Homo sapiens: one gene and its partner. The protein of the gene in region 1 interacts with the protein of each later gene in a pairwise test. Each region holds a gene or a part of one and is shown in the gene's direction. Other genes may lie near its edges.

The links.
Region 2: the proteins of ZNF385C (region 1) and BOLL interact in a two-hybrid assay, tested with the Homo sapiens proteins (2 studies listed by BioGRID).

Annotation. Positions count from the first base shown.
Region 1 is NC_000017.11:42,093,887-42,102,837, reverse strand, and holds the start of ZNF385C (zinc finger protein 385C), read left to right. Parts: upstream 1-4,364; 5' UTR 4,365-4,428; intron 4,429-8,951. Other genes in the region: ATP-dependent RNA helicase DHX58, read left to right, coding at 526-622, 892-1,077.
Region 2 is NC_000002.12:197,766,948-197,775,982, reverse strand, and holds part of BOLL (protein boule-like), read left to right. Parts: intron 1-242; coding exon 243-318; intron 319-4,000; coding exon 4,001-4,128; intron 4,129-9,035. UniProt on the Homo sapiens protein: Probable RNA-binding protein, which may be required during spermatogenesis. May act by binding to the 3'-UTR of mRNAs and regulating their translation.

The DNA of each region.
Region 1 (8,951 bases):
GGCAATAGAGTGAGACTCTGCCTTTAAAAAAAAAAAAGCGACACCAGTTGACCTGAGTGGAAGGGACTGTGAATAATGAGATTTAGAAAAAGACAGACTAGCCCGTGGAAGATTTGAAAGGTCAGGTGTGAAAGTGTAGCCTTTATCCAGGAGGTTCCTCTTAGGAATCTTGGATAGATTTTAAGGAACAGAATGTCAGGGCAGATTTATATTTTTAGATCCCTCTAGCAGTTGGTGGAAGGATGGCTTGGGATTGGGAGTAAAAATGGAGGCAGAGAGACCCATAAGGAGACTGTGAAGACCAGGTAACCGATGCTGAGGCTTGAACCTGGGCACAAGGGAACGTGCGATGGAGGCCACACAGGTAGAACTCACCAAAGATTGGATTTCCTGGCCTGGGAAGTCTGTGCCTCTTAACCAGCAGGAAGGCCCAAGGTCCAGGCAGAGACTTGGCCGGCAGGAGGGCATGAGATCCGGGGCTGAGGAGGGTCAATGAGGGCTGTGGCCACCCCCCTTCCTCTCCAGGAACTACTATAATGTCTCCAGGGATCCTGTGGTCATCAACAAAGTCTTCAAGGACTGGAAGCCTGGGGGTGTCATCAGCTGCAGGAACTGTGGGGAGGTAAGAGCTTAGGCCACGTCCCAGGCCCCAGAGTCCTCAGCCCCAGTCTTCAGAGGCCCTCAGGGAGCCCTCACTAGGACACGGGAGACAGTCCCACCCCATGGCCTCCAGTCTGAAGAGGGAGGTCCAGCCCCTCCCTAAGGGAGCCCACAGTCTGTGACATCTCAGGTGGGAGGAAAAGGCCCTGTATTCAGGGAATTCCAACTTGAGGAGAGAAGCCCAGTCTGAGGCCAGAGACCCAGACCCTACCCTCTCTGTCTCACCTCCAGGTCTGGGGTCTGCAGATGATCTACAAGTCAGTGAAGCTGCCAGTGCTCAAAGTCCGCAGCATGCTGCTGGAGACCCCTCAGGGGCGGATCCAGGCCAAAAAGTGGTCCCGCGTGCCCTTCTCCGTGCCTGACTTTGACTTCCTGCAGCATTGTGCCGAGAACTTGTCGGACCTCTCCCTGGACTGACCACCTCATTGCTGCAGTGCCCGGTTTGGGCTGTAGGGGGCGGGAGAGTCTGCAGCAGACTCCAGGCCCCTCCTTCCTGAATCATCAGCTGTGGGCATCAGGCCCACCAGCCACACAGGAGTCCTGGGCACCCTGGCTTAGGCTCCCGCAATGGGAAAACAACCGGAGGGCCAGAGCTTAGTCCAGACCTACCTTGTACGCACATAGACATTTTCATATGCACTGGATGGAGTTAGGGAAACTGAGGCAAAAGAATTTGCCATACTGTACTCAGAATCACGACATTCCTTCCCTACCAAGGCCACTTCTATTTTTTGAGGCTCCTCATAAAAATAAATGAAAAAATGGGATAGAAAATGTGTGGTGTCTTAATTTTGTTGGAATATAATTGGTAGAAAATAAACTGCTTGTATAGTGTGCAATTGGGTACTTTTTTAAAATTGTTTTATTTTTTGACATGGAGTTTCACTCTTGTTGCCCAGGCTGGAGTACAGTCACACGATCTTGGCTCACTGCAACCTCCACCTCCTGAGTTCAAGCGATTCTCCTGCCTCAGCCTCCCAAGTAGCTGGGATTACAGGTGCCCGCCACCATGCCCAGCTAATTTCTTGTATTTTTAGTAGAGATGGGATTTCACCATGTTGGCCAGGTAGTTCTCAAACTCCTGACCTCAGGCGATCTGCCTGCCTCAGCCTCCCAAAGTGCTGAGATTACAAGCGTGAGCCACCATCCCTGGCCTGGATACATTTTAACATGCATATCCTCCACGATCAAGATAATGAACATAGCCATCACCCTCAAAATGTCCTGTTTCTTCCAGTGGAATTTTCAAAGAACAACAAAAGTTTCCTGGTTCCCCATTGAAATCCATACCTCTCACCCTTCCCCATCCAATGACCTGCTTTGTAATTTTTAGTGTTAAAAGTGTTTGGCTTTTTTGAGACAGTCTCACTCTGTCGCCCAGGCTGGAGTGCAGTGGCGCGATCTCAGCTCACTGCAACCTCTGCCTTCAGGGCTCAAGTGATCCTCCTGCCTCAGCCTCCCAAGTAGCTGGGATTACAGGTGCCTGCCACCATGCCTGGCTAATTTTTGTATTTTTGGTAGAGACAGGGTTTCGCCATGTTGCCCAACAGGCTGGTCTCAAACACCTGAGCTCAGGTGATCCACCCACCTCGGCCTCTTAAAGTACTGGGATTACATGCATGAGCCACTGGGCCCGGCCTTTTTTTTTTTGTTTTTGTTCTTATTTTGTTTTTGAGACAGGGACTCGCTCTGTCGCCCAAGCTAGAGTACCGTAGTACAATCATGGCTCACTTCAGCCTCAACCTCCCAGGCTTAAGCAATCCCCCCACCTCAACCTCCCTGGTACCTGGGACTACAGATGTATACCACCACACCTAATTTTTGGGGGGTAGAGGGGCAGTGTACAGACAAGTTCTCACTATGTTGCCTAGGCTGATCTCCAACTACTGGGCTCAGGTGATCCTCCCAAAGTGCTGGGATCACAGGTATGAGCCACTGTGCCTGACCTAGTGTTAAAAGTTTTAGGCCAGGCGCATTTTCTCACGCTTGTAATCCCAGCACTTTGGGAGGCCGAGGTGGGCAGATCACCTGGGGTCAGGGGTTGGAGACAAGCCTGGCCATTTCGGTGAAACCCCATCTCTACTAAAAATTACAAAAATTAGCCTCACATAGTGGCAGGCCCCTGTAATTCCAGCTACTCAGGAGGCTGAGGCAGGAGACTCACTTGAACCTGGGAGACGGAGTTTGCAGTGAGCCGAGATCATGCCACTGCACTGCAGCCTGGACAACACAGTAAGACTCCATCTCAAAAATAAAAAAATAAAAGAAGTTTTAAACACTCCTCTTTAATAGCCCTCCTAAGCCTTATTCATAAAGGGTATCAACAGTCTAAACTTGAGGCCCATCAAGAGTGTGAGGGCTTCCTGCTCCCCCTACCCCATAATAGCTTCCAACCCCGATATTCCCCTCTCCACCTTCCCTTAACCCTCAGATCATCTCCCCTAGGCTGGGGAAAGGCTGAGATCCAGGGTTTGAGGGGTGGGCTCAGGTAGGCACGGGGGTGGGGAAAATTACAAAGGCCTAAATTTTCTGTTCTCATTTTAACAAGAAAGAAAAAGAAAGGCAAGATCTAGGTTGCTTCATCAGGGAAAGGGCTATTTCTGTAGTACAAGGCCCAGCAGGCAGGAGACACCTTCAAGAGGAAGGGAGGGGGCTAGGGCAGAGATTTGAGAGCAGGATGGCAGTCCTTCCTGCCGTCCAACCTCCTTCCCTCCTGCTACATTCTTGGTTCTGTCCCCAGGTAGATGAGAAATGCACCCTGTCTTCTCCCAGCATTTTCTTTTTTCTGTAGGCCTCTTGTCTGATTGAGGGCTGAAATTCCCGTTCCCGTCTTTTTGGCTACCATCTCCCATAGACAGTGTACTTCTCTTTCCCAAGGCCCCCCTCTTCCTCCTCTCAAAGTGTCCTTGGCCCTGGATCCAGGAGTCTCCTTCCTCCTCCCTCCTGTCCCATCTCCAGCTGCCTTCCCGGGGGGAGAGTTGCCCATCCGCTCCCCACTTTGCCTTCAGTTAGTATACTGCCTGCCAGCAACGTGCCTTTTACAGGTCAATAAAATTAGCGACTGGGGGCAGAGGGAGGGGGCAGGGGCTCAGGGGTGCTAAGCTCAAAGGCCTTGAATGTGGCTAGACTCACGGAGTCAGGACGCCTGTCATTCCAGGGCTAAACAGTGACAGCTGGGGGACCTGGGCTGGCGCTGGGGGCGGAGGAGGGGCTGTGTGGCAGGGAGGGAGATGGGCTGAGGATAAAGATGGTCTGGTTGCCTAATGGCCCCCTCAGCGGCCTAAACCCCTACACAGCTGAGCCCTGGAGAGGGCACCCTTACTTTAGAGGAGTGTCCCGTCTCACACCCAACCCTGCCAGGCCCGAAGAGCTCAGATGGAAGGGGACTCAGGCCAGGAGAGGTTTCTGAGCTTTCTTCTTCGTGTGAGGGGTCTTTATATGAAGTCACCCTCTCCAGGGCATCTGGGCGAGGCTGTCTGAAGCGGGGAATTCCCACCCACCCCCCGCACCCCCTGGAGTCCTAACTTCCCAGCCTTCAGAACTCGAGCTCCGGGCCCTCCCTGTGGCTCAGATGCTCTCCCGGGACTTCCCACCTGAATGAGCCCGCGCACCCCACCGGCGGGGCCTCGAGGGAGGGGCCGGCCCGGCTCCCCCTCCCAGCCCCGCCCCTGCCCCGCCGGGCCCCGCCCCTCCCAGCCAGCCCCACACGCAGCGTTCCCAGCCAGGCGAGAGCAGGTGGCCGCGGCGGGCTCCGTCTCTGCCCCGCAGGTAAGACGGCGACGCGGGCTAGTCCACGCCGAGGACCTCGAGGGCAGCGCGGGAGAACGAGGCAGCCTCTTCCACCTGTCCGGTCCTCTCGCCTCAAAATTGGGGGACCCCAAGGGACAGTGAGGATATCCCTATCTCGGCTCTGAGCGCCGACGTTGGGCATCTGCTGGGCGGGACTGAACTCTGGGGCAGTTAGAGGGTCCTGGCTGGTTATCCCTGATGCCAGGCGGGCTCCAAAGGATGGAAAAGAAAGAGCCGGGCATTAGACACGCAGCTTTCTGGAGTGGGGCAGGTTGGGGATGGTGAGGACGGGGGTCCGGAGTAAGGAACCTCGTTGACTGAGAGTGCGCCATGCCTCATCCAAGGGCAGCCTCTTCCCCACCCTAGGGGGTGATGGCTTGACCCAAACTGGGCTTCTGTTCCGTGGGCTAATGAGGTAAAAGCCGCCGCATAGCTGAGCTGGGGCCTGGGATTTTCTAATGAGCCCCAGGGCACCTGCATCATTTATTTACATCTGGGTACAAGGGGGTGAGCAGGGGATTACCCCGATGGCCTAGGGAACCCGGAAAGTCTGGGAACTCAGTAGATCTTTTCTGTGTCTGTGTCACAGAGCCGGCTGGGGAAGGTGATCGCAGATGTGGCCTTATTGCAGACAGGGGAGCATTTGCACCCTCAGTGTTGGGATTTGGGCTGTAGGAAAGGGGTCCTGCCTCCCAGGACCTCGAGGAAGCCTTCCTGGAGGAGGAGGACCTGGGCTGACAGCTTGAATGTGATGCTCAGAGCTCTGAGCCACTAAGGAGAGGCAGCCTTTGGGTCTTGGTGCTGGGTTGAAGTAGAGCAGAGGACCCTGGATTATAGAACAAAGGGAAGTCAGGACATTGCTGTCTGGGTCCAGCTGGGACCCCAGGGACCTTCCTGAGATCATCGCAAGCCTTTGGACAGACACGGGTGACAATGGGGGGAGGGGGGCTTCCTTGTCTGTCTAGATTCCCCATTCCATTGCCTCATTTCACCACACAAACCATCAGAGGCAGAAGTTCGTTCTCATATCCGACCTTCATCCCTTCTGGGTCTGTGCCAGCTTCTTGCTTCTGGGAGGCCATGTGCTCTAGTGGAAAGAGTGGGGGCTTTGGGGTCAGTTAGAGCTGAGTTCTGACACCTCTACCTACTGCGTGACCTTGAACAAGTTTCTTAACCTCTTTGAGTTCACTTAATCACCTGTAAAATGGGGATAATAATAGAACCCACCTCATAGAGTGGCTGCAAGGGTTAAATGAGGGTACACATGTAGAGCGCTTAGCACAGTGCCTGGAGCCTGGCGAGGGCTCAGAAAGTACCAGTGTCCCCTCATGTGTGGGACAGCAAAGCCGATCTGCAGGGAGTGAGAGCGAGCAGGGGAGGGGGGAGTGGAAGGGTTTTTTTTTTTTTTTTTTTAGCTAAGCTTGGCTAGAAAGAGTGCCCTTCACTGCATGCCCCCCTACCAGGGGGAACCTGCCCCCTGCTGGTTCCTGGATCTCTGGACCTCTCTGGGCTGCCCAGGGCCCCTCACCTCCTCCTCTTTTAGTCACCTTGTTTGTGTTGCCTTTTGTCTCTGTAGAGGGGAGAGAGTCCCCCCGCCCCCGCCCAAGGCAGGGACCAGTACCAGCAGGAGCTCACTTGGGCTGTGCCTCAGTGGAACAAGCTCTGGCTTGGAGACCCAACCTGAAAAAAATGCCCTCTTGTCATCACTGCTCTGCCCTCCCACCTCCAGGAGTTGGGATCAAGCCGCACTAAATTTTTCCAGGAAGATAAATAATACGAGTGACTGAAAGTCCTGTTTGGGGATTGTCCAAGCTGTCCTCCAGTGAAAGGACAGCTTCAGGCCCTGGCCTGATCTCTAGGCTGCCAGGGAAGGCTGAGTTCAGTAGCACCCTTAAACCTGGGCAAGGGAGGGAGTGCCCATGCCCTAAGCTGGGGGCTTTCAAAGGCTCCACTCTGGCCCTCCTGCTGCCAGTCCTCTCCCTGTGGGATGAGGCATCAGCAGGGCCGAGGGGATGAGACTGTGAGTCCCCTCCAAGACCACATTCTCCATACCTGTGACTCTGGAGGTCCCTGCCTAGATGGTCACCATCTGGCTCCCAGCCCATGCCAGCCTCTTCCCTGGGCCTGTCTGCCTCAGGACAGGTTATGCCAATAGTGTGTGCACCCCTACGGACAGTGAAGGGACAGCTATTTGCAGGGGCTGTGGATGGAGCAAGGACATGAGGCTGGGTGTCCTTATACATGCACAAGAGTCCCTTGTGGTGCAGACAGGACCCGGCAGCAGGAAGGGGGGTGGCCAGGGTGCGAGTGGAGCTGTCTCCTCTGCACAGAGTCATTCTGATGTGTAAAGCTCAGGAGGCAGATAAATCCAAATTTGTATCTGGTCCTCCAGGTTGTTAATGAAGGTGTATTTGTCAGGGTGAGAGGTTAGAACATATTTCACAGTTTGCTGGCTTGATTTATAACTTTTAAATATTTAGACATATGTCTGTGGGCCGCCATTTGTCCCCTTGCCCCAGGCCCTGTGAGTGTTCCAGGTGGGCCTGGCTGGGCCTGTGACTTCAGCTGCCATTTGGTTAATTCCTTCCCCACTCTCCCTGTCCCCCAGTAGAGTAGCACCCCTATAAAACTGGGCTTAGAACATGCTTACCTGGACCAGGACGGAGTTTCAAGGTGAAATGAAGATTGTCAGTTGTCATCAACAAGCAGTTCCCCTGTGGGCCTCCTGACCTCATTATCCACCACAAAACTGGGACAATTTTTTTTTTAATGTCCTGTGATGCTTGAGAGGGAAGGGCTGGGGAGGAGAGGTTACTTCTCTCCTGTGTGTGGTGAGGGTGTGGGTCACTGGACCCCAGGAGCAAGGAGAGAGCTAAATGGGGCCGCAGCAGCAGGAGGGATGGAAGCTAGCCTGGGGGAAAGCCAGGGTTGGACCCCACCATCCCTCTGGCTGCCCTTCTCAGAGGGAGCTGCGCCTGCCACCCGGGAGGGCCCATGTGTCTATCATGTGGGTTCTCCCATGAGTTTGGAGTTTGGGCTTGGGACAGGGGAGACTGTGGGGTCAGCTGGCCAGGCGGCGGGGGTCATCCCCAGCGGGAATGAATGGTACGCTGGTGTTGACTGTAGTCAAGTGCCCTGTGGCACCTGGACACACCGTCTGTTCAGAAGAGGCATGAAACCTTTATTGTGGCTGTCTCTGCTCACTCATTGTTTCTGATTGGGCTATTTGAGGAACAGCCTGCCACGTTGGCCTCATTAGCATCGTGAGGCTCTTAATGGAACTGGATCCACACACGTGTACAGACACTCACAAACTCACTCAGGTACGCATGCCCGCCTGCACTAACCCCCAGAGGTCTGTGTATAGGGTTGTGCGCTCCTAAACCCCACCCCAGGTCAGACCCACCCTGACACACATGGCTTGTGACACCCATACCTTCACCCCAGTCACACTCTCACTGTCCCTTATTGGTGACTTTTCATTCACCTTGGGTGACCCACTGGCTCCAGTGGCCAAGGGCTGGCTTACTAGAGGGTGGCTGGGGGCCAGATGCCGGCAGCGGTTGGTTAAGCTTTTGGGACAGGAGGCAGCAGCATTGCCCTGGTGAGGCCACCCCCAGTGGGGCTCGACCCCCAAGCACTTTGGCTCCCCCCACGTCTCCCAGGAGAGTGTCTCTGGGTCCTGAGGCTGTCTGTCCTTGTGTAGTTCTCGTGAGCCTCTTTCTGCTTCGGCCTGTGAGTGTGTCTGGCCCTGCGCCTCCTGTGTGCTCCCCATCTGTGTCCTTTCCCCTCTCCTGACCCTGTCCTTTGTTATCTCTGTCTCTCCTCTCCACCCGTCTAGCTCTTTTTTCTGTGAGTCTTTCTATGTCTTTTCTTCTTCCTTTTTCTCTGCCTCCTCTGTCTACCCCTTCTCTCTCTGTCCCTCTCTCTCACACTCCCACTCTCAGTGTCTGACTGCGTGGCTATCTCTCTGGGTGGGTCTTTCTGTATCTTCACCTCTCTCTATATCTGCCTGTCAGTCTGGACATGTATCCCTCTGACTCTCTGCCTTAGTCTCTTGAGGAGTCTCGGCAAAAGGAGAGCCAAGAGTCCTGAAAGAAGGTGACAGCCAGGCACGGTGGCTCACGCCTGTAATACTAGCACTTTGGGAGGCTGAGGCGGGTGGATCACCTGAGGTCAGAAGTTCGAAACCAGCCTGGCCAACATGGTGAACCCCCGTCTCTACTAAAAATACAAAATTAGCTGGGCGCGGTGGCGCATGCCTGTAATCTCAGCTACTTGGGAGATTGAGGTGGGAGAATCGTTTGTACCTGGGAGGCAGAGGTTGCAGAAAGCCAAGATTGCGCCATTGCACTCCAGCCTGGGCAACAAATGTGAAACTCCATCTCAAAAAAAAAAAAAAAAGGTGATAATGCCTCCCAGGGGGCCACGATCACTTCTGGGCTCCTCCACTGCCAGGCAAGGCGGCAGGAAAGGGAATATCACGTCCTAGGGAGAGTGGA
Region 2 (9,035 bases), on another chromosome or scaffold:
TTCACAAATACAGAATCCATGAGTAATGAGGATTGACTGTATTACAAATGGAGAAAATGGGGAATTGCGGTCAGACCCAGATCTATTTCAGTCTGAAGACGGCTCTTTCCCACTATTCCTTGCTGCTTTGAAAGAATATTATAGTCTGAATTTTTGAAATTCTTTCTAACTAGTTTTTCCTTATTGATTTTATAAATAATAGTGCTAAAATAATAAAATAATTTCTTTTTTCTTTATTTTAGGCTGAAAAACTTAATTATAAGGATAAGAAGCTGAACATTGGTCCAGCAATAAGAAAACAACAAGTAGGGATCCCTCGTATGTATTGAGAACTAATGTATTTTTAAATATTTTTGCATGGTTCTTTTTTGAAATATAAGACTTTTTATAGAACTTTATTAAAAGATCATGTTTCTTTCATCTAATAAAGTTATTTTAGCAAAGTTGGTGGAAAAACTGAATATTTTTGCCACAAAATAATATATCTCAATTTTTTTGGCTGGGAAAAAATTTATATACATAAAGATGCTTAAGTATATTCCATGTAGTTACATCATTAAAGGAAAAAAAATCTTTCGTGATGAAAATATCATTTAATATAGCAAAAGTAATTAGAAGTAATTTAATAATTTAGACTTACTAATGAGAAAAATTTTAATTAGAAACTAATTTAAAATTAATCAGAGTAAAAATATTGAAAGTGAAAACATAGAACTAATATCAGAAACTCGCTGCATGCTGTGTACTGTAACCCAGCCAGGTGTGTCATAATTTTCAGGGGGACAATCCCTAAAGCTTTAGGAATTGGCTAAATTATGTATCTACCTTCCTCAAATTTCTCTAATGCTTTCAATTCTATCTTTCCTCACTCTTTCTACTTATTAAGTTAGGCATCTTTATAGTTAACTTTTTACCTTTAATATTTATTAAAATTCCTAACAGTCTTTGGCTAGAAGGAGAAATGTGATGTAAAATTTATAACTAACTTATTTTCCCTTAGCCACATCCTAGTGTCTACGGGAATGTTTAAAACATTAGGTTATTATATATAATCTGTTAACAAATTAATAGATTGTATTCATTTGGACTGTTATGCTTTTGACTTAGAAATAATAGATATTTGGTTAATACAGTTGCCACAACTACAACAAAAAAGAGATTGATGTATATTAAGTTTAATTTTGACTTAGTATTTGTTAATTTAGGAGACAATCAAAGTATCCTCAGTAGGTTAATACAAAATGGAATGCACTAAATATGGCAGAATGCTGAATATTTTCAATCTACTGTTGTTACTTGCAAAGGTTAAGCTAGAACATATAGTAACGGTCCGTTAGCCCATTATCACCAGCAATATGTACTAAATAGTAATGCTCATAGTATGATCTACCAGTTGCTGAAATAGAAAATAAATCAGCACTATGCTGAATGCTTTCACATATACAAATAGTTTTTTCAAAACTACTTAGTGCAAGGGTCAATGTTATGAGTTTTCATTTAATCTTCATAGAATCCCATGATGTATTGTTATCTCTATTTTTGTAAATAGAAAATTCAATCCCAAAAAGATAAAGTCATTGTTTTAAAAATGTTTCTGCTGAAATACTCCTAAAGGTAGAGGAGAGTTAATCTTGGCATGTTGTGGTTCCTAACCCACTGCAGCATACTGGAATTGCAAATTTTCTTTAAAGTCTCATGATTTATGCAAAAACATCATGTATAATTTGCATTCTGTTCCATAATATCATATTGTTTATTTGAATATAAAAATATTTCCCAAAAACAATTGAATAAAACTGATTCTGTAGGAAGATTACTATGTTCAGCCTCTGCTTTTTCATATCTCCTGGTATACCATCCATCCCTTATCCAACTTTAAGAAGTATGGGGTTAAATAGCCTAATGGTGAGTGGTAGCACTAGCCTTCAAATGCAGGACTGTTTGACTCCAAAGTTCTTTTGACTTTTCTGCGAAGAAAAATAGGTGTTAAAAGTACATTTACAAATAAGGGATTCTTATCTTAGTTTTTTCTTAGATCTGTCATTTCTTTCCATCTCCATTACCAACACCCGAGTCCCAACTAACCACTTTGTTTACCTTAATTCCTGGAAAAACATCCTAAGTGGTCTCTCTGAATCCAATCTTTCTACCTTCCAATCCATCATTCACAAGGCAGCCAGAGTGATCTTTCAAAAGTGCACCTCTTATTGTCTTATGCTCAGCTTATTTTGAGGTATTCTTCCCTTTTCTTTCCATGCTTTAGCCATGTAGCCTTCTTTCAGTTCCAGAACATTCTATACTCCTGTTCTCAGAATCTAATATACTGTTTTCTTTACCTAGAATGTACTTTGCCATCCAATTCATTCTTTAGAGCTTAGCTGAACATCATTTCATCACAAATTTTCCATATATATGTATATAGAGAGAAATTTTATATATGTTTTGTATACATAATAATTGAAATGTTCAGTATCGTACCCTATAATGCCTCATGTATTTATCAAAATTGTATTTAATTAATTAATTGTGTAATCAACTAATGACTATCTTCACTACCAGACCTAACTTCTTTGAGGATACAGACCATCTCATGTCTAATTTTTTTATTTTTTGCTGTATCACTAGGGCCCTGTTCAATGCCTTGAAATAGTATGCACTGAAAATTTATTTATTTAGCAGGTAAAGCATGGTTCATTTTCTTTGAATAATGAACCATTATTGAATAATGAACCATTATCATTATCTTTGAATAATAGTGGAATATCTTTTGGGGGGAATCCATGGACCTCCAAAATTGTGTGTAAAATTGTGTTTGACTGTATATATATCTGAGGAAAAGGTCCCTGATTTTCATCAAATTCTCAAAAGGATCTAATTAAGAACCATTAAAATAAATAATAACAATACTAGATCAAATGCAGTGAAAATATAAAAGCTGAGGAGCAATAGTATTATTTAAAGTGGTAGGCCCATGCTATTTGAAGTGTGGTTTGCAGACAGTGTCATTTCATTGGAAGCTGTCAAAATGCAAATTCTTAGGCCCTGTCCCAGATTTACTGACTCAAAATCTCTGAAGATAAGTCCCTGGAATTTGCATTTTAGAAAACAATTTAAGTGATTCTAATTTATGGGAAATTTTGAGAAGCACTGGTATAGGTGGAAGAATTGTCAGTTTCACTAATTTATATAACCTTGCTGGTTAAGACCTAATCTAATTTGGCTAATTTAACTTTTAAAGTCTCCTCAATGACAAAAAATATATATATATCTATGTATATTATTTACTGTTTTTTGGTTTGTGGTGGGGGTTTATATAACTTGGCCCGGGAAAAGAGTTGGGGACCCCAGACTAGCCACATGAAGACTTGCGGTCATGTTTGCAACAGCAGCAGTTGTAGCAAAGGGAGACTAGATAGAGAATAGATCATAGAAAAGAGAGATAAAAGACAGCCATAGCATGAACGAATGTTTGCTGGTAGGATATCCAAAGAATTAGTAGGGTGGAACCAAAATGTCTTCAGGAAAGTAGAATCTTCTCCAACTTTACTGCCTCCATCATCTTTGGACTTTCAGAAATAAAAGGTCTAGCCAAGACCTTAGGAACTTCACTACAGTGTATGTTGTCTTGAAGTAACTTTAAATTATACATAATTTATATTTGTACAAATAATTACTTCGCTGATGATAGTCTAAATTGTTCAGCTTTGTGTAGCATACTGGTGTTGGAATCTGAATTGATACATTTTTGGTATTTCTTATTCGTATTGTTTTTCTTTTCTTTTAATCATCTTAAACTAAAAGCTTTAAGGTATTGAGTTTAAAAATACAGGCTTCAAAGATACTTTGACATAAGGAATTTTTTAAAAATATCTGTGACATTCAATTTTTACCATAGCTACATAGGTATATTAAGATAAATATTTTTCTGAAGTGTTTAGAAACTACATTTTTAACAGTTAAATTGAACATTTCAATTATTATTATTTAATCTTTGCTTTAGGTTCTAGTATAATGCCAGCAGCTGGAACAATGTATCTAACAACTTCAACTGGATATCCTTATACTTACCATAATGGTGTTGCTTATTTTCATACTCCAGAGGTAACTTCGGTCCCACCGCCTTGGCCTGTAAGTAATTTCATTTAAAAAAGGATTTCCATCTATTACTATCAATTTTTTAATGTTTGTTATATTTCTGAAATATCTTAACCACAGATAATTACAAATAATAACACACATCAACCAAATTAAATAGACATCAACATTTTGCCACATTTACTTAAGTTCTTAAAATGGGGAGTAAAGTAAGACAGCTTCAGGTCAATTCTCCTTACCCCCACTTCCTTACCCTCTTTCCTGTTCAAAAGTAAGCAGAATATCTTTCCTATTCATTTTATATATTTTTACTACAAATATATGTATTCATAAATGACATATAGTACTGCTTTAGTGGTTTTTATTTTTTATTTTTTGCATTTCTTTTTTTTATATACTTTAAGTTCTAGGGTACATGTGCACAACGTGCAGGTTTGTTACATATGTATACATGTGCCATGTTGGTGTGCTGTACCTGTTAACTCGTCATTTACATTAGGTACATCTCCTAATGCTATCCCTCCCCCCTCCCCCCACCCCACAACAGGCCCTGGTGTGTGATGGTCCCCATCCTCTGTCCAAGTGTTCTCATTGTTCAATTCCCACCTATGAGTGAGACCATATGGTGTTTGGTTTTCTGTCCTTGCAATAGCTTGCTCAGAATGATGGTTTCCAGCTTCATCCATATCCCTGCAAAGCACACGAACTCATCCTTTTTATGGCTGCATAGTATTCCATTGTGTATATGTGCCACATTTTCTTAATCCACTCTATCATTGATGGGCATTTGGGTTGGTTCCAAGTCTTTGCTATTGTGAATAGTGCCGCAGTAAACATACGTTTACATGTTTCTTTATAGCAGCATGATTTATAATCCTATGGGTATATACCCAGTAATGGGATGGCTGGGTCAAATGGTATTTCTAGTTCTAGATCCTTGAGAAATCGCCACACTGACTTCCACAATGGTTGAACTAGTTTACACTCCCACCAACAGTGTAAAAGTGCTCCTATTTCTCCATATCCCCTCCAGCACCTGTTGTTTCCTGACTTTTTAATGATCGCCATTCTAACTGATGTGAGATGGTATCTCACTGTGGTTTTGATTTGCATTTCTCTGATGGCCAGTGATGATGAGCATTTTTTCATGTGTCTTTTGGCTGCATAAATGTCTTCTTTTAAGAAGTGTCTGTTAATATCCTTCACCCACTTTTTGATGGGGTTGTTTGATTTTTTTCTTGTAAGTTTGTTTAAGTTCTTAGTAGATTCTGGATATTAGCCCTTTGTCAGATGGGTAGATTGCAAAAATTTTCTCCCATTCTGTAGGTTGCCTGTTCACTCTGATGGCAGTTTCTTTTGCTGTGCAGAAGCTCTTTAGTTTAATTAGATCCCATTTGTCAATTTTGGATTTGTGGCCATGGCTTTTGGTGTTTTAGACATGAAGTCCTTGCCCATGCCTATATCCTGAATGGTATTGCCTAGGTTTTCTCCTAGGGTTTTTATGGTTTTGGGTCTAACATTTGAAGTCTTTAATCTATCTTGAATTAATTTTTGTATAAGGTGTAAGGAAGGGATCCAGTTTCAGCTTTCTACATATGGCTAGCCAGTTTTCCTAGCACCATTTATTAAATAGGGAATCCTTTCCCCATTTCTTGTTTTTGTCAGGTTTGTCAAATATCAGATGGTTGTAGATGTGTAGTGTTATTTCTGAGGCCTCTGTTCTGTTGGTCTATATCTCTGTTTTGGTACCAGTACTATGCTGTTTTGGTTACTGTAGCCTTGTAGTATAGTTTGAAGTCAGCTAGCGTGATGCCTCCAGCTTTGTTCTTTTTGCTTAAGATTGTCTTGGCAATGTGGGCTCTTTTTTGGTTCCATATGAACTTTAAAGTAGTTTCTTCCAATTCTGTGAAGAAAGTCATTGGTAGCTTGATGGGGATGGCATTGAATCTATAAATTACCTTGGGCAGTATGGCCATTTTCACAATATTGATTCTTCCTATCCATGAGCACGGAATGTTCTCCCATTTGTTTGTGTCCTCTTTTATTTCGTTGAGCAGTGGTTTGTAGTTCTCCTTGAAGAGGTCCTTCACATCCCTTGTAAGTTGGATTCCTAGGTATTTTATTCTCTTTGAAGCAATTGTGAATGGGCGTTCACCCATGGTTTGGCTCTCTGTTTGTCTGTTATTGTGTATAGGAATGCTTGTGATTTTTGCACATCGATTTTGTATCCTGAGACTTTGCTGAAGTTGCTTATCAGCTTAAGGAGATTTTGGGCTGAGATGATGGGGTTTTCTAAATATACAATCATGTCATCTGCAAAGAGGGACAATTTGACTTCCTCTTTTCCTAATTGAATACCCTTTATTTCTTTCTCCTGCCTGATTGCCCTGGCCAGAACTTTCAACACTGTGTTGAATAGGAGTGAAGAGAGAGGGCTCTACGCCAATAAACTAGAAAATCTAGAAGAAATGGATAAATTCCTGGACACATACACCCTCCCAAGACTAAACCAGGAAGAAGTTGAATCTCTGAATAGGCCAATAACAGGCTCTGAAATTGAGGCAATCATTAATAGACTACCAAATAAAAAAATTCCAGGACCAGACAGATTCACAGCCGAATTTTACCAGAGGTACAAAGAGGAGCTGGTACCATTCCTTCTGAAGCTATTTCAATCAATAGATAAAGAGAGAATCCTCCCTAACTCATTTTATGAGGCCAGCATCATCCTGATACCAAAGCCTGGCAGAGACACAACAAAAAAAGAGAATTTTAGACCAATATCCTTGATGAACATTGATGCAAAAATCCTCAATAAAATACTGGCAAACCGAATCCAGCAGCACATCAAAAAGCTTATCCACCATAATCAAGTTGGCTTCATCCCTGGGATGCAAGGCTGGTTCAACATCACGAATCAATAAACATAATCCATCACATAAACAGACCCAACGACAAAAACCACATGATTAATCTCAATAGATGCAGGAAAGGCCTTCGACAAAATTCAACAGCCCTTCATGCTAAAAACTCTCAATAAACTAGGTATTGATGGAACGTATCTCAAAATAATAAGAGCTATTTATGATAAACCCACAGTCAGTATCATACTAGATGGGCAAAAACTGGAAGTATTCCCTTTGAAAACTGGCACAAGATTTTTTCTTCTTTTTTAGTTTTTTGTTTTTTACTACAAGAATATATGCTATTTTTTATTTTTAATGCTATAGTATTGCCACTTTTCACTTCTAGATCTTAAATCTTGAATTTATGTATCGACTAATCCACCTATTTCCTGCTATTTTGAAATTAATCCTCTGCCAAACACTAAGTTTCCATGTGTGTGGGTCTTTTTTCTGCTATTTTGTTCCATTGGTGTATTTGTTCACCTTGCCCAGTTGTAATTATTTTGACTTTATAACGAGTCTTGAAATCTTAAAGTACATTGTTCATCTTCAGGAGTCTCTCATCTATCCTTATGTCTTTGCTTTTATGTGTATAAATTTTTTAATTCAGTTTGTTTAGTTCAGTGAAAAGCCCTTTTTTTTATTAGAATTGCATTAAATAGTGTGAATAACTTGGGACATTTCAGTATTTTAAAATATTGAATCTTCCTATCCATGAACATGATACATCTCTCCATTTATTTGTCTTATTTTACTTCTATCCATAAAAAAGTTTTCTTTCTCCATAAAAAAGCGTGACACATTTTGTCAAATTTATTCTTAGTAGACTATAGTTTTGTTGCTTTAATGAATGCTGTTTTTTAAATAACATTTCCTAATAGATTGTAGCTGGTGTATAGTAATGCTCTTGATTTTTCAATAGTGATAATCTATCAGTAACCCTGCCAAACTCTCATTTACACAATTATTTATGATTCAGTGTACTTCTATTTCTTTCACTTCTTTTTTTCCTGGAGTTTTTGCACTGACCATGTCTCTGCTACAGTATTGATGTAGTGAAAACATCATGACCTTGTTCTTGAAAAAGGGAGCAATTTCAGTGATTCACCATTAAACTTTACATGTATGCATGCATGTATACATACATATATAGACACACACACGCATACTTTGTAAGTGGGAAGATACTCTTAACCAGACTTTCTCAATCTTAGCACTGTTGACATTTTGAGCCAGATTATTTCTTTGCTGTGAAGGTCTGTCCTGTGCACTGTAGGATGTTTAGAAGTATCCCTAGGCTCCCCATAGTTATGATAATCAAAAATGTCTCCCAACATTGCCAGATGTTCCCTATAGGACAAAATCACTCATGGTTGAGAGTTACTGCCCTAAATCAATTAAGGAAGCCATTTTCTACCATGTTTGTTAAGAGTTTTTAATCATAAAAAGGTATGGAATTTTAACAAATGCATTTTCTGTCTCTGTTGAAATTACCATTTTTTCTCCTTTAATCTATTAATATGGGAAATTACATTATTATTTTCTAATGTTAATCAGTGATACAGTTTTATTAGCATACCATAGTCTGTGAATTGTACAAAACTGTGATACTTTTCCTCAGTTTCGGGGGTGCAAACATTAAACAAAACAATATAAGTTAGATCCCACATTAGACACTGAATTTTAATTGCTACATTAGAGCCAGTTTTACTATCTTGCAATACAACTTGCCTGTTTTATTAAAGATCTGGTTTTAAGTAATCTGTTTTGGGGCTTACTCTTTCACTTTGAATAATCAAGTGTTACCTGTACTTTTTTCAGCACAGATTTTTCACTTGTAAGTTTATCAAACTATTAACTCTTTTAAATGTCAAATTACTAAAATAAAAATAAAATATCTTTGCTTTAATTATAGGTATAACAAAGGAATAGAACATTGATTATTTGTAACTAGTGGGAAAATTAGATACGACTATTCATTCAGTTCTAAACACTATTATAAACATTAACTGTTTCCTGCTGGTCCCCACAATG